Linked DNA regions of Homo sapiens: regions 1 and 2 are each linked to region 3. Evidence: fine-mapped expression QTL. A gene starts in region 3. Each other region holds a variant in brackets. All regions are shown on one strand. Distances are between the middles of the regions. Region 1 has its middle 19 kb from the start of METTL24. Region 2 overlaps SLC22A16 (solute carrier family 22 member 16). Region 3 holds the start of DDO (D-aspartate oxidase).

The links. PIP is the estimated chance that this variant, and not a neighbour inherited with it, causes the effect. A credible set is the group of variants that fine-mapping cannot tell apart.
Region 1: its variant is the best candidate, but not a certain one, in a credible set for the expression of DDO in whole blood (TOPMed, PIP 0.68).
Region 2: its variant is the best candidate, but not a certain one, in a credible set for the expression of DDO in nasal epithelium (TOPMed, PIP 0.62).

Annotation. Positions count from the first base shown.
Region 1 is chr6:110,375,668-110,379,940 of GRCh38, reverse strand. No RefSeq gene overlaps it. Among named protein-coding and RNA genes, the nearest start is that of METTL24, 19 kb to the right of the region's middle. The variant G/A (reference allele first, on the strand shown) is at 2,102.
Region 2 is chr6:110,470,239-110,474,405 of GRCh38, reverse strand. The region is part of intron 1 of SLC22A16 (solute carrier family 22 member 16); the gene reads left to right. Among named protein-coding and RNA genes, the nearest start is that of SLC22A16, 4.3 kb to the left of the region's middle. The variant G/A (reference allele first, on the strand shown) is at 2,517.
Region 3 is chr6:110,413,265-110,417,537 of GRCh38, reverse strand. DDO (D-aspartate oxidase) reads left to right here and starts at 1,963. Exons shown (of 5, transcript NM_001372108.2): 1 at 1,963-2,071; 2 at 4,072-4,247. The coding sequence starts at 4,076. LOC105377936 (a long non-coding RNA gene) reads right to left here and starts at 1,894. Exons shown (of 2, transcript XR_942856.2): 1 at 1,751-1,894.

The DNA of each region.
Region 1 (4,273 bases), 38 kb after region 3:
CTTGTGTATGCTAAACGAAGTTCTCGTGCTGCGGTTTTCAGCTCCATCAGGTCATTTATGTTCCTCTCTAAACTGGTTATTCTAGTTAGCAATTCCTCTAATCTTTTATCAAGGTTCTTAGCTTCTTTGCGTTGGGTTAGAACATGCTCCTTTAGCTCAGCGTAGTTTTTTATTACTCATCTTCTGAAGCCTGCTTCTGTCAATTCATCCATCTGATCCTCCATCTAGTTCTGCGCCCCTGATGGAGAGACATTGCAATCATTTGGAGGAGAAGGGGCACTCTGGCCTTTTGGGTTTTCAGCATTTTCTCACTGATTCTTTCTCATTATTCTGAGTTTGTCTAGTTTCAGTCTTTGAGGCTACTGACCCTTGGATGGGGTTTTTGTGGGGGCCTTTTGTTGTTGTTGTTGTTGTGGCTTTCTGCTGGCTTGTTTTTTTTTCAATAGTCAGGCCCCTCTTCTGTAGGGCTGCTGCAGGTTGCTGGGGGTTCACTTCAGGCCCTATTCATCTGATTCGCTCCCATGCCTGGAGACGTCACTCAAGGAGGCTGGAGAGTAGCAAAGATGGGTGCCTGCTCCTTCTTCTGGGACCTCTGACCTTGAGGGGCACCAACCTGATGCCAGTAGTATCACTCCTGTATAGGGTATCTGACAACCCCTGTTAGAGGGTCTCACCCAGTTGGGCAGCACAGGGAGCAGGACCCATTTAATGAAGCACTTTGTCCCTTGGTGGAGAAGGTGGGCTTCACTTCAGGGAAACCCACTCATCTGGGCTTCCCAGATTCCTCAGAACTACCAGGACTCCGGAAAGGCTAAGTCTGCTGGTCTGCAGAGACTGGGGCCACTTCTCCCTCTAGGGGCTCAGGCCCAGGGACATCCAAATTCTGTCCCTAAGCCTCTGGCTGGCATTATTGGAGATCCTGCAGGGTAGCCCCGCCCAATTAGGAAAGATGGGTTAGACCTGAAGAGGCACTCTGGCCGCAGACTGCCACAGGTGGTGTGTTGGGCTGTGGGGATAATTCTTGGGACCAAACCACTCAGCCTCCCTGGCTCCAGCAGGGGAAAAGTGCAGCCTGGAGGTATAGAGATGGGTGCCGCTATTCCCCTGCCCAGGAGCTTAGCGTGTTAGGCAGTTGTGAGTCCCAGTGCTGGCTGCTGCCCCGCCCCCAAAGAGCTCAAAGGGCTTAGACAGCAGGCAGCCGCAGCCCCTGCTGGTCACTCCTCCCTCAGGGAGTTTGGTAGGCTTAAGCAGATTCCAGCTGAGAGGCCTCAAAAATCTGCATGTTCCACGGTTAGGATGCTAGGCCCGGTAGCGTGGGTTCATCAGTGAGAACTTCCGATCCGTGAGTTGCACAGTTCTGTGGAAAAAGCACAGTTTCCCCTGCTGGGTAGAGTGCTCACTCACTGCTTCCCTCGGCTGGAGGAGGGAGGCGGTGAGTGAGGGGGCCCAAGGGTTCCCCTTCCCTGTGTGGCTCTCAGGTGGGCTGCCCCACCACACTGCTCTTCTTTCTCTCTGTGGGTCACGCCAGCCTTCTAGTCAATTTTGATGACAGAACCTGGATACCTTGGTTGCTGGTGAAGAATTCATACACTTATTATGGCTTATTTTGGATGGGAGCCTCTCAGCACTGCTGCTTCTAGTTAGCCATCTTGGCCCCCAAGATAATAGATTTTAAAAAGTCAGACCTGTGTCAACAAATTGCTTTGGCCAGAAAGCCTTCTGTTGAGGCTGTTGGCTTGTCTCCGCCTGGCCCTTCCCACACTGCCCCAGCGCACTGCTGTCTACCTGGCCCACCAATAGCCCTTCAGTATGTCGGATCTTCCCCAGGGCTTGCCTTTTCCTGGCACTCACTCAAATACGAGTTAACTTCCCTGAACAAAATCCTCTGGACCAGGGGTCTTCAATCCTGACTGTGCATTAGAATCACCTGGGCAGCTAAAACCAACCCAAAACCAACCAACTGAACAAACTAAAAAACATACCTGGGCCCACTGCCAGACCAAGAGAGTTAGAATCTTTATGATACAGACGGCAAGTATTAGTATTTTTAAAAAATCTGCTCCCACCCCCACCTTGGTGATTTTAATGTGCATCCAGGATC[G/A]AGAACCACAGATTTAGATTTCCAGTCCTGGTTATATATTAGAATCACCTGGGGGGTTAAACATATACAGGTGCTTAAGCTCTATTCCAGACCTCTCAGATCAAAATCTCACAGGGTGGGAACCAGGAATGTCTATGTTTGACAGCTTCTCTGGGAGCTTCCTGATGAACAGCTAGGGCTGAGAACCAGGCCTTAGGCCATGCCAAGAGCATACTCGTGGGCCTGGGCATGGGCATGCTAGAACCTCAGCCACCTGAGCCTCTGAGGAGGACAGAAAACCTGGACTAGGCCAAAAGATGGATGGCGTTGCAGCCCTCCAGTCCAGGTCCCAAAGACCCCTGACCTGGATGCCCACCTCAGTCCCTTGGCCAGTGATGTCCAAGCCTGGCAGTGCAAGGGATGCCCATCATCAACCATGCCCAGGACACTGAATCAGTCATGGCACCGTATTAGTCTGTTTTCACGCTGCTGATAAAGACATAACTCGAGACTGGGCAATTTACAAAAGAAAGAGGCTTAATGAACTCACAGCTCCATGTGGCTGGGGAGACCTCACAATCATGGCAGAAGGTGAAAGGCACATCTCACTTGGTGGCAGACAAGAGAAGATAACTTGTGCAGCGAAACTCCCCTTTACAAAACCATCAGATCTCATGAGACTCATTCACTACCACAAGAATAGCATGGGAAAGACTCGCCCCCATGATTCATTTATCTTCCACCGGGTCCCTCCCACAACACATAGGGATTATGGGAGCTACAATTCAAGGTAAGATTGGGGTGGGGACACAATGCCTAACCAGATCAGACACCAAGGCTGGCATCTGGGAGGCCTGAGCACTTGCCAGCCAGCAGGGCTGAGGCCAAGCTCTGCAGATCTGGCTTATCTGCTGCCTGGGGGTTCTGGTATATCGCTGGTTTCTGTGCCAGAAGTAGGATCCTGTGTTGAACCCCATCTTGTTTCTTTGAGAACTTGAGCCTCTGCTTAGATCTTGCCAACTCCTTTCCTCTTCCTCCCCAGGAGCAGACTTGCTTCTTGTGCCCCAGAAGCACCAGAAGGGATTTTAGAAATATACCTCCTAGGTCCTACTATCTGAAATTCTGATTTATTAGATATGCAATATGGCTCATGATTTAGAATTTTGAAGAAGCTCCTCAGGTGATCATGATGCAAAAAAAAAAAAAGCATTGGAAATTTTGCCTCAACCTAGGATCTAGTCTTCCCTCCCACATTCCACCTCCCCCTCAAAATACTAGGAGCTCCTTTTCCTTAGAGCCACCAATTAGACTGCTTGTCTAAATAGCCAGTCCAGCTGAATTACTCATGCTCCCCTCTCCCTTAATCTGTGGTTTGCCCACGGTGCCCTAGACATGATGCCATAGGATTTTTTTTTTACCTCCTTCCCCCATTCCTGTCTTCCTAGGTTGATCAAGTTTTCTTTTAGTCCTTCCCCTCTCCACTGCCACTAGTTAAGATGTTACACTTCACTCCTTCCCTCTCTCTCTTTCTCTCCCCTCCTCCCTTCCTTCTCCTTTCTCTTTTCCTCCTTCCCTTCCTTCCTATTTTCCTTAGTAGTTAACCTAAATATTTTATATGCATACTTGACTTAAAAGGTGTAAAGTTAACCTCATCATTTTCCTCCCAATCAATATAAGAATCTTAGAATACTGTAATCCCAAGCACCTCTCCCATCTTCTATGTTATTGTTCTCTTATATTTTGTTTCCACTCGTTTTTAAGTCCTCCATATTTGCTATTAAGAATTTTAAAATCTGGGCTTGGTGGCTCACACCTGTAATCCCAGCACTTTGGGAGGCCGAGGCCGGTGGATTACCTGAGGTCAGGAGTTTGAGACCAGCCTGACTTAACATGGTGAACCCCACCTGTAATCCCAGCTACTCGGGAGGCTGAGGCAGGAGAATCACTTGAACCCCGGAGGCGGAGGTTGCAGTGAGCTGAGATCGTGCTACTGCACTCCAGCCTGGGCAACAAGAGTGAAACTCCGTCTCAAAAAAGAAAAAAAAGAATTTAAAAAATCTGTAACTATTCAGATGTAACTACAGCTTTGCTTACATATTCATCACGTCTTGCAGTTAACCTCTGCCTGAGTTCAACGTCCTTCTTGAAGTGTACTATTCTTTCCTCAAGGGTCCACGACTGTTAAACTCTCTT
Region 2 (4,167 bases), 57 kb before region 3:
ATCTATTCTTTATAAACAGAAAGGAAAGTTATTGTGATGATTATTTAGTCCTCTCTTTAAGGGATCCTAGTGAAAGTGTTAAGTAGAGCAGTGGTCCCCAACCTTTTTAGCACCAGGGACTGGTTTTGTGGAAGACATTTTTTCCACAGACCTGGTCCCTAACCTTTTTAGCACCAGGGACTGGTTTCGTGGAAGATATTTTTTCCACAGACCTGTGGTGGGGTCGGGAGGATGGTTTCAGGATGGAACTGTTTCACCTCAGATCATCAGGCATTAGATTCTCATAAGGAGCACTCAGCCTAGATCCCTCGCATGTGCAGTTCACAATGGGGTTCACGTTCCTATGAGAATCTAATGCCGCCGCTGATCTGACAGGAGGTGGAGCTTAGGAAGTAATGCTCGCTGGCCGCTGCTCACCTCCTGCTGTGTGGTCCAGTTTCTAACAGGCCATGGACCAGTCTGGTCTATGGCCTGGGGCTTTGGGACCCCTACAGTAGAGAACCCTGATTACCTCTCATTTCTCATTGGTCATTTCTAGAATAAGGAAGCACTATTCTAGTCACCTTTAAAAGGGGAAAACAGGCCAGGTGCGGTGGTTCATGCCTGTAATCCCAGCACTTTGGGAGGCTGAGGCAGGCAGATCACGAGGTCGGGAGCTCGAGACCATCCTGGCTAATGTAGTGAAACCAAGTCTCCACTAAAAATACAAAAAAATGAGCCTGGCATGGTGGCGGGGGCCTGTGGTCCCAGCTACTTGGGAGGCTGAGGCAGGAGAATGGCGTGAACCCAGGAGGCAGAGCTTGCAGTGAGCCGAGATTGCGCCACTGCACTCCAGCCCGGGCGACAGAACGAGATTCCGTCTCAAAAAAAAAAAAAAAAAAAAAAAAAAAAAAAAAAAAAAAAAAAAAAAAAAAGGGAAAACAGGATACCTGAGAAGAACTAAAATACCATTCCAGGATTTCTCCTGAAACCATATCGTTTCCATAAACTTCACAGCTTAAGCTCCATATGAAAAGAAATTGAGAAGACTGAAATTTAGGCACCTGTGTTGGGAGGATCTGAACCTGGATCCCTGAGTTAGTTGTCCTGGGTTAAGAGGAGAGACGGTTTAAAAGTTTAGAGTTGGAATGTGGAGCCTGTGGCAGACCTTCATCAATGGATAGAGGTAGGGTTTTGTTTTGTTTTGTTTCAGTATATAGAGTTTTTCTGGCTCTTTTTTGACTTCAGTGTGTGAACATCATAACATCTATCATTTATATACAGCTACGGTGTGTCATAGAGTGCTTTCCATGTGTTAACTCATTTCATTCCCACAAAGCCCATAGTTTAGATGAGGAAACTGAGGCACAGAAAGGCTAAGGATCTTGCTCATGGTCCCTGGTGGTAAGTAACAGGGCCAAGATCAAACCTTGGCAGTCTGGCTCCAGAGTCCATGCTCTTAGCCATGATGGACTCCACCAGTTATGCTTTTATATGGAATGGTATAATCTAGGACTGAAAGCAGTTTTCTTCATCCGTCACTCAGATTGCATGGGTCCATTCCCTGGGGCTTCTGGCCGCCCTTGCTTTTCCTCGCCTCTGGGTTTTCTGCCGATTGTGTTTGTGTGATTATTTTTCCATTAGAGTGTCATATCTATAAGCCTGTTGTCCTGGTGGACCCCTAGGTTGGGTACATGCATGACACCTCTGAGGGCCAAGAATCTTTGTAAAAGAGAGAGTGATGTGTTAGAATGCTAGACGCCTAAGGAAATGGGGCTTGGTTTTTTTTCAAGAGGTTATTCTTGCAAAAGGGAAAGGGAAATTTGAATTGAAGGAGTGCTTAGGACCTTTCTAGCACATGGAAAGTGTGTTTATGTGAACTAGCATGGCTTGATTGGGGGCCACTTAGTGGTTTATTATTTTGGGGGTATAAAATATGAGAGTGAGAGAGGCAGGAGGTAAGCTTACAGTCATCTCCATGAGTGTTTTTGCAAAGTTTGGGTATCAGAAGTTTGGGTTTTGCAGTGCAGAGGGTGGATTGGAGGGGCAGCGAGTGGGGCAAGGGGGCCAGTGAAGACCTAGATAAGAGCCCAGGTGAGAGAGAAAGAGGGTCTGGAGAGTGGGAGTGTGGGCAGGGAGAACCAGACAGTTTTAGCAGGTGGAGTTGATGGGAGCTCTTGGCCCTAAGGCATGAAGGAGAAGTGAATGGGACCACATGCCCCTCCTAGCCCACCCCATGTCCCATGCCCTGGATTTCTAGTTTGTGTGGGTGATGGTAGCCTAAACTCAGAAAGTTACCCTCCAGGCGGGGCAGGCCTAGATATCGAGCTCAGTTTGAGATTGGTTTACCTTGAGTTCCTTGTGGGAATTCCAGGTGGAGACATCAAGTGGGAAGTTGGGTAGATAATCTGTTGCTCAGGGAAAATGCCCCCTTGTCAATATGGATCAGGTGGCCACCCAGGGCTGCAGTCCAGCTGGACCAGTGCCTTGTGGACAGATTAGGCATGCCTGGCACCTGTTCCAGCTGTGCCTCAGCA[G/A]GGGTGTTGCTGAATAGTTTTCCCTCTCCCTGGGCGCTGTAGATAGAAAACTTTTAAATTGATATATTACATATATGCAGAAAAGTGTCCACCATAATCTACAGCCTGATGAGTTGTCATACAGTGAACACACCTGTGTTACCCCCACCCAAATCATCTCCTCTTATGCCTTCTCCCAAGCCCTACTCCGTCCCTGTCCCCCAAGCTCACTACTGTCCTTACATCAACGATACTAAATGTTACATAAGTGGGGTAAAAGGCACTTGCCCTTTGGCTTCTTTTGTTCCACACTGTGTTTGTGAGATCCACCCATATTGTGTGTCACAGAGGTTAGTCGATTTTCACAGCTACATAGTATTTAATGGCACAAATATTTCACGGTTCATTCATTTACTGTCAACAGACGTTTAGACTGTGTCCAGGTTGGGCTTATATGAGTTGCCTTTCTTGCATTTGTCTTTTAGGGTAGGGTTATATTTTGCTTAACGACAGAGATACTTCTGAGAAGTTCATCGTTAGGTGATTTTGTTGTTCTGCAAACATCACAGATTTTATTTACACAAGCCTAGATGGTACAGCCTGCTACACATTTAGGCTCTATGGTATAGCCCACTGCTCCTAGACTACAAACCTGCACAGCATGTTATTGTACTGAATACTGTAGGCAATTGTAACACAATGGGAAGTATTTGTGTACCTAAACATGGAAAGGGTGTGGTAAAAATATGATATTAATATTATAATCTTATGGGACCACTGTTGTATATGTGGTTCATCATTGACCGAAACGTCGTTTTGTGGCATGTGGCTCTACCTGTGTATGCATTTCGCTGGGTAGATACCTAGGAGATGCTGTCACAGGCGGTGCATGTGGTCCCCTGCCAGAGAGTTTTGCAAAATGGTTATAACAAATGTCACCCTCACAAGCTGTTTATTGGTTTTTCAGTTGCTCCACAACAATTGTCCAGTATTTTGAATGTCAAACCTTGTACCAGTACATAGTTTAACCAGAAAACTAGATATCCTGGGGCAATGTTTTCATCCGTATCAGCATCTCCTAAGAAGCTTCTTAAGCTTGTAGGGGCCTTGACCCCACCTTAGACCTCCTGAATCACGATTGCTAAGAGGGGGACAGAAAAGACAAATCCTAGCTTCAGAGGCCTGCCAGGGTGGGTGCTGTGTTGGTGTATGTGTGTGTGTGCACAAGAGAAAAAGACACAAAGAGAGAAGGAGAGGGGAAGAGAGAGAGAGAATAGTTCTGGTGATGTGGTGATGACTGTGGGGGTCACTGGCTGAGGAAGAAAAAAACTGAGGCCAGGAAGGTAGAAACTAACTGAAGAAGCTGGTAGGATCTGAAGACTGGACGCCTGAATGGTGCTGGAAATGGGGTCAGTGGGAAGGATGGGGGAAGTAAGAGGGTGGGAGGTCATGCTCAGAACCTGAGCTTTTCAGTGGTGGAGCTGTTCCAGGTAGAGACTAGTTAGGGAACAAACCCAAATGCCTCAGGTAAACTTTAGGCAAGTTAAACATGCCTGCTGTTTGCAGGGGCTGTGTTGTCGTTTGCTGAGTTGAAATTTCAGGGATGGGAGTCAAATAATTATAAATATGTGCACCATACGTACATGATTTATGTTCTATTTCCAGTCATATT
Region 3 (4,273 bases):
GTGTCAGAATTGAATTGAATTAGAGGACATGCAGCTGAAGTGTCTGCTAGGGAATCTGCAGAATGGGATGCTTGGTGTGTAGGGAGACAACCCCCACACACCTGGTCACAGAAAGTGTTCTGTATTCAGTGACTGTGACAGTATTGAGCATAGCCAGAGAAAAAGTTGCTTTTCCCCACCACCCCCTCACCGGCCCTCAGACCACCTTACAAAGAATTGTACATATCTCAACTTATCAGAGACCTACAACAACTTGCAAGGGATTCTTAGTTCATTCTCAGTTTTCAGATGGGCAATCCAACTCAGAAGTCAGGTGATTTGCTCAAGGTAAAAATGCAGGTCTCTTGAAACCAAAGTTTGTGTTTTGGTTAAGGGCTTGAGCTTTGGCTGGGCACAGTGGCTCAAGCCTGTAATCCCAGCACTTTGGGAAGCCGAGGCGGGCAGATCACAAGGTCAGGAGATCGAGACCATCCTGGCTAACATGTTGAAACCCCGTCTCTGCTAAAAATACAAAAAATTAGCCAGGTGTGGTGGCGGGCGCCTGTAGTCCCAGCTACTAGAGAAGCTGAGGCAGGAGAATGGCATGAAACCAGGAAGCAGAGCTTGCAGTTAGCTGAGATAGAGCCACTGCACTCCCGCCTGGGTGACAGAGCGAGACTCCATCTCAAAAAAAAAAAAAAAAAAAAAAAAGAGCTTGAGCCTTGACGTCAGATATCCAGACTGGATTTTACCATTTAAGAGACCCTGGACCCTTCCTTACTGTCTTGGAGCCTCAATGTACTCATATACAAAATGGGGATAGTGATAATAGTACCTACTTCATAGGGTGGTTGTGATATATGATGTCATACATGTGTCTAGCACATGGTTAATGCTACATATACATTATTGAAAATATTATTGTCACTAATTTGACACATCACACTGCCTCCCTGGAAACAAACTTGTTAACTGTGCCTCATGCCTAGAGCTCAGTAGACACTCATCAAATATTGAATCCCTTCTTTGAATATGTGGGCTAAATCAGGGATCCCAAATCCCCAGGCCACAGACCACTACCAGTCCGTGGCCTGTTAGGAACTGGCCTCACAGCAGGAGGTGAGCCGTGGGTGAGCAAGCAAAGCTTTGTCTTCATTTATACCCACTCCCTATCATTTGCATTACTGCCTGAGCTCTGCCTCTTGTCAGATCAGCTGAGGCACTAGATTCTTATAGGAGCACAAACCTACTGTAAACTGCGCACACAAGGGATCCAGTTTGTGTGCTCTTTATGAGAATCTAATGCCTGATGATCTGTCACTGCCTCCCATTACTTTCAGAGAAAACCATCTAATTGCAGGAAAACAAGCTCAGGGCTCCCACTAATTCTACATTATGTTGAGTTGTATAATTATTTCATTATATATTACAACGAATAATAATAAAAATAAAGTGCACAGTAAATGTAACACACTTGAATCATCCTGAAACCATCTCCCCATCCCCAGTCTGTGGAAAAATTGTCTTCCATGAAACCAGCCCCTGGTGCCTAAAAGGCTGGGGACTGCTGGGCTAAAGAATCATGTGGTTCTATCCTAGATTATCTCCTGAATAGTGTTTCCAGCTCCAATCAATCAACAACATTACTCAGCCCTCACCCCCTCCTTCCTGCTTCCCCCACCAGCTGACCCAGCAGAGCCAGGCACCCGGCTAACTGTGGGCAGCCAAACGAGGTTGGAAGTTGGACAGGCTCACCCATTATTCACCATACCTACAAATCAGCTGGAGAAAGCCCAGGCTGGCGGCCAGACAGAGGGCTCGTGGGCCAGAAAGGGAAGGGCTTGGCAGAGACAGCGCCATGGAGATGACAGGTTGAGGTCACTTGCTCCTTTCTCCGGGGCAATGGGTGACAGAGACAGCCATGCAGGCCAATGGAAAGGAAGACCAGGGGGAATGTCCTGAATCAAGTCACCAATGGGAATCAGTTTCGCTTTCTCTCTGTCTCTCAGGGCATGAGACCAGCCAGGCACTGGGAAACAAGGTTTGGTGCCAGAGATTTTGGTGGCTTCCAAGACTGCTTTTTCAGAGACAGGTACTTGAATTCTTGCTTTCAGCTGAGGGGTCGTTCCGTCCATGCTCTGGGAGTTTGGGAGTGTGTCTGAATAGGGTCAGGGGACAGTGATGGACAGGCCACTGTGCCAGGACACACCACATTGCTCGCTCACTCCTCCTCCCTGGCAGCTGGTTATTCTTAGCCACAGATTGCTTGCCCTTTCAACTTAGTTTATTAGAGCTGTTTTGAGAGAGTTGCTGGACATGGGAGGCTGATGTGAAACAGCGAAGTCAATAAGGTCACTGGTGGCTGCAGGACAGCTCTACTCAAGCTGGCCCCCACCAGACTGCTCTGGCCTGGGCCCGTTCCCTTCTCTTCCCTCAGCCCTGGCAGGCCCACTCTCTCTCAGCTGACCAGCCCACTGTACAGCAATCAAATTAACGTATCAAATTAGCACAGAAATGCATAGACTGCTCGAGGAATAGGAATATCACACTAAACTTCATTGGAGGGCTTTAAAGTCTCATAGTGCGAGAATCTTCAGAACTGGAAGAGAAAGCAGAGGCCACTAACAACCAAGCCCACGTTTTTCCTGCCAACAGCCCTTGCTGAGGAAGCTGCCCAGCCTTCCAGAGGAAAGGTGAACCTCTGTGTGTGGGTGGCCATGGTTTGTACCATGTGGCCCAGTACCCTGATTACTGTGCTTTGGACAGAGAAGGGCAACTATGCCAAGGGCACATTCAGAGGCTGGTTTAGCCCAGCAAGTTGGCCTGGTGCTAGAATTTTGTCCAACAGGGGATGCAATGACCAACTGGTACAACTGCATTTTCTCTCTCTGGAGTTTAAACCTGAGCCATACAGAAAGAGTCAGAGCAGGAACAGATGGGGAAAGCCAAAAACAGGGAAGCAAAGGCAGGCGGGGATGCTGACAGTGGAGCAAGGCTCCGTGGGTGAGGGGTGGGACAGAGGGTGCCAGCCTCAGGACACCTGGCCCGGGCTCCGGGATGTCTGTCCCCTGCATTTCCATTCAGACTCTCCCAAGGAGCCCCCTTTATGAGACCGCCTCACTGGGTCTCTCTTATTTACCACCCAAAGGAGCAAGTAATCCATCTGTTCTGTGTTACAGATGAGGGAGTGGAGGCTAGGAGACCACGGACTGCTCCTCAGGTTACAGAACCTGTCCAGGACAGACAGGGGGCCGGTGACAGTGGCAGATGGCAGAGGAGACTGAGTTCAGCTGCTGAAACTTTCTGTAATGTCCTTATTATTAGAAACAACTTTGTAGACAGAGTTGAGTTTTGAGTTGCTCATGGGTCATGCCCCTCACCACTGCTCCTCAGGTAGTTCTGGGAGCAAAGACTACAGCTCTGTGGTTTTCTGTCAACCTTCCCTAGGTTGTGCCCATAGGGAAAATGGTTTAGGAAAGGGGGATGAAGCCGGGCATGGTGGCTCACGCCTGTAATCCCAGCACTTTGGGAGGCTGGGGCCGGCGGATCACAAGGTCAGGAGTTCGAGACCAGCCTAGCCAACATGCTGAAACCCTATCTCTACTAAAAATACAAAAATTAACCTGGCGTGGTGGTGGGCACCTGTAATCCCAGTTACTCAGGAGGCTAAGGCAGGAGAATTGCTTGAACCTGGGAGGCGGAGGTTGCAGTGAGCCGAGATCTCGTCGCTGTACTCCAGGCTGGGCAACAGAGCAAGACCCCCTTTCAGGGGGAAAAAAAAGGGAAGGGTGAAGAATGAGTAGAAAACTCCTCCAAATGCAGACCTACTTACTGGCTAGGTGTTCTAAAGGCAAATCCAAGCCAGTTTTGTGTTACTCTCTAAAAGCCCATGGAGATCTTGTTGCTTATACACCAATATTTAATGGAAAGTGAGCTTATGGGGTTATCCTCTTTATCTCACAAGAAACACCAATAGGCTAAGTCTTATTCTGAGTGGCTGAAGACCTAAGGAAAAAACTGTCAAGACCAAACTTTGTCTGGATGGGAAAATCCTTAAAACAAGGGGTATAGCTCCCATTTCCCTCCTCACAGGCTCATGGACACAGCACGGATTGCAGTTGTCGGGGCAGGTGTGGTGGGGCTCTCCACGGCTGTGTGCATCTCCAAACTGGTGCCCCGATGCTCCGTTACCATCATTTCAGACAAGTTTACTCCAGATACCACCAGTGATGTGGCAGCCGGAATGCTTATTCCTCACACTTATCCAGGTGAGAGATTTCAGCTCCTCTATCAG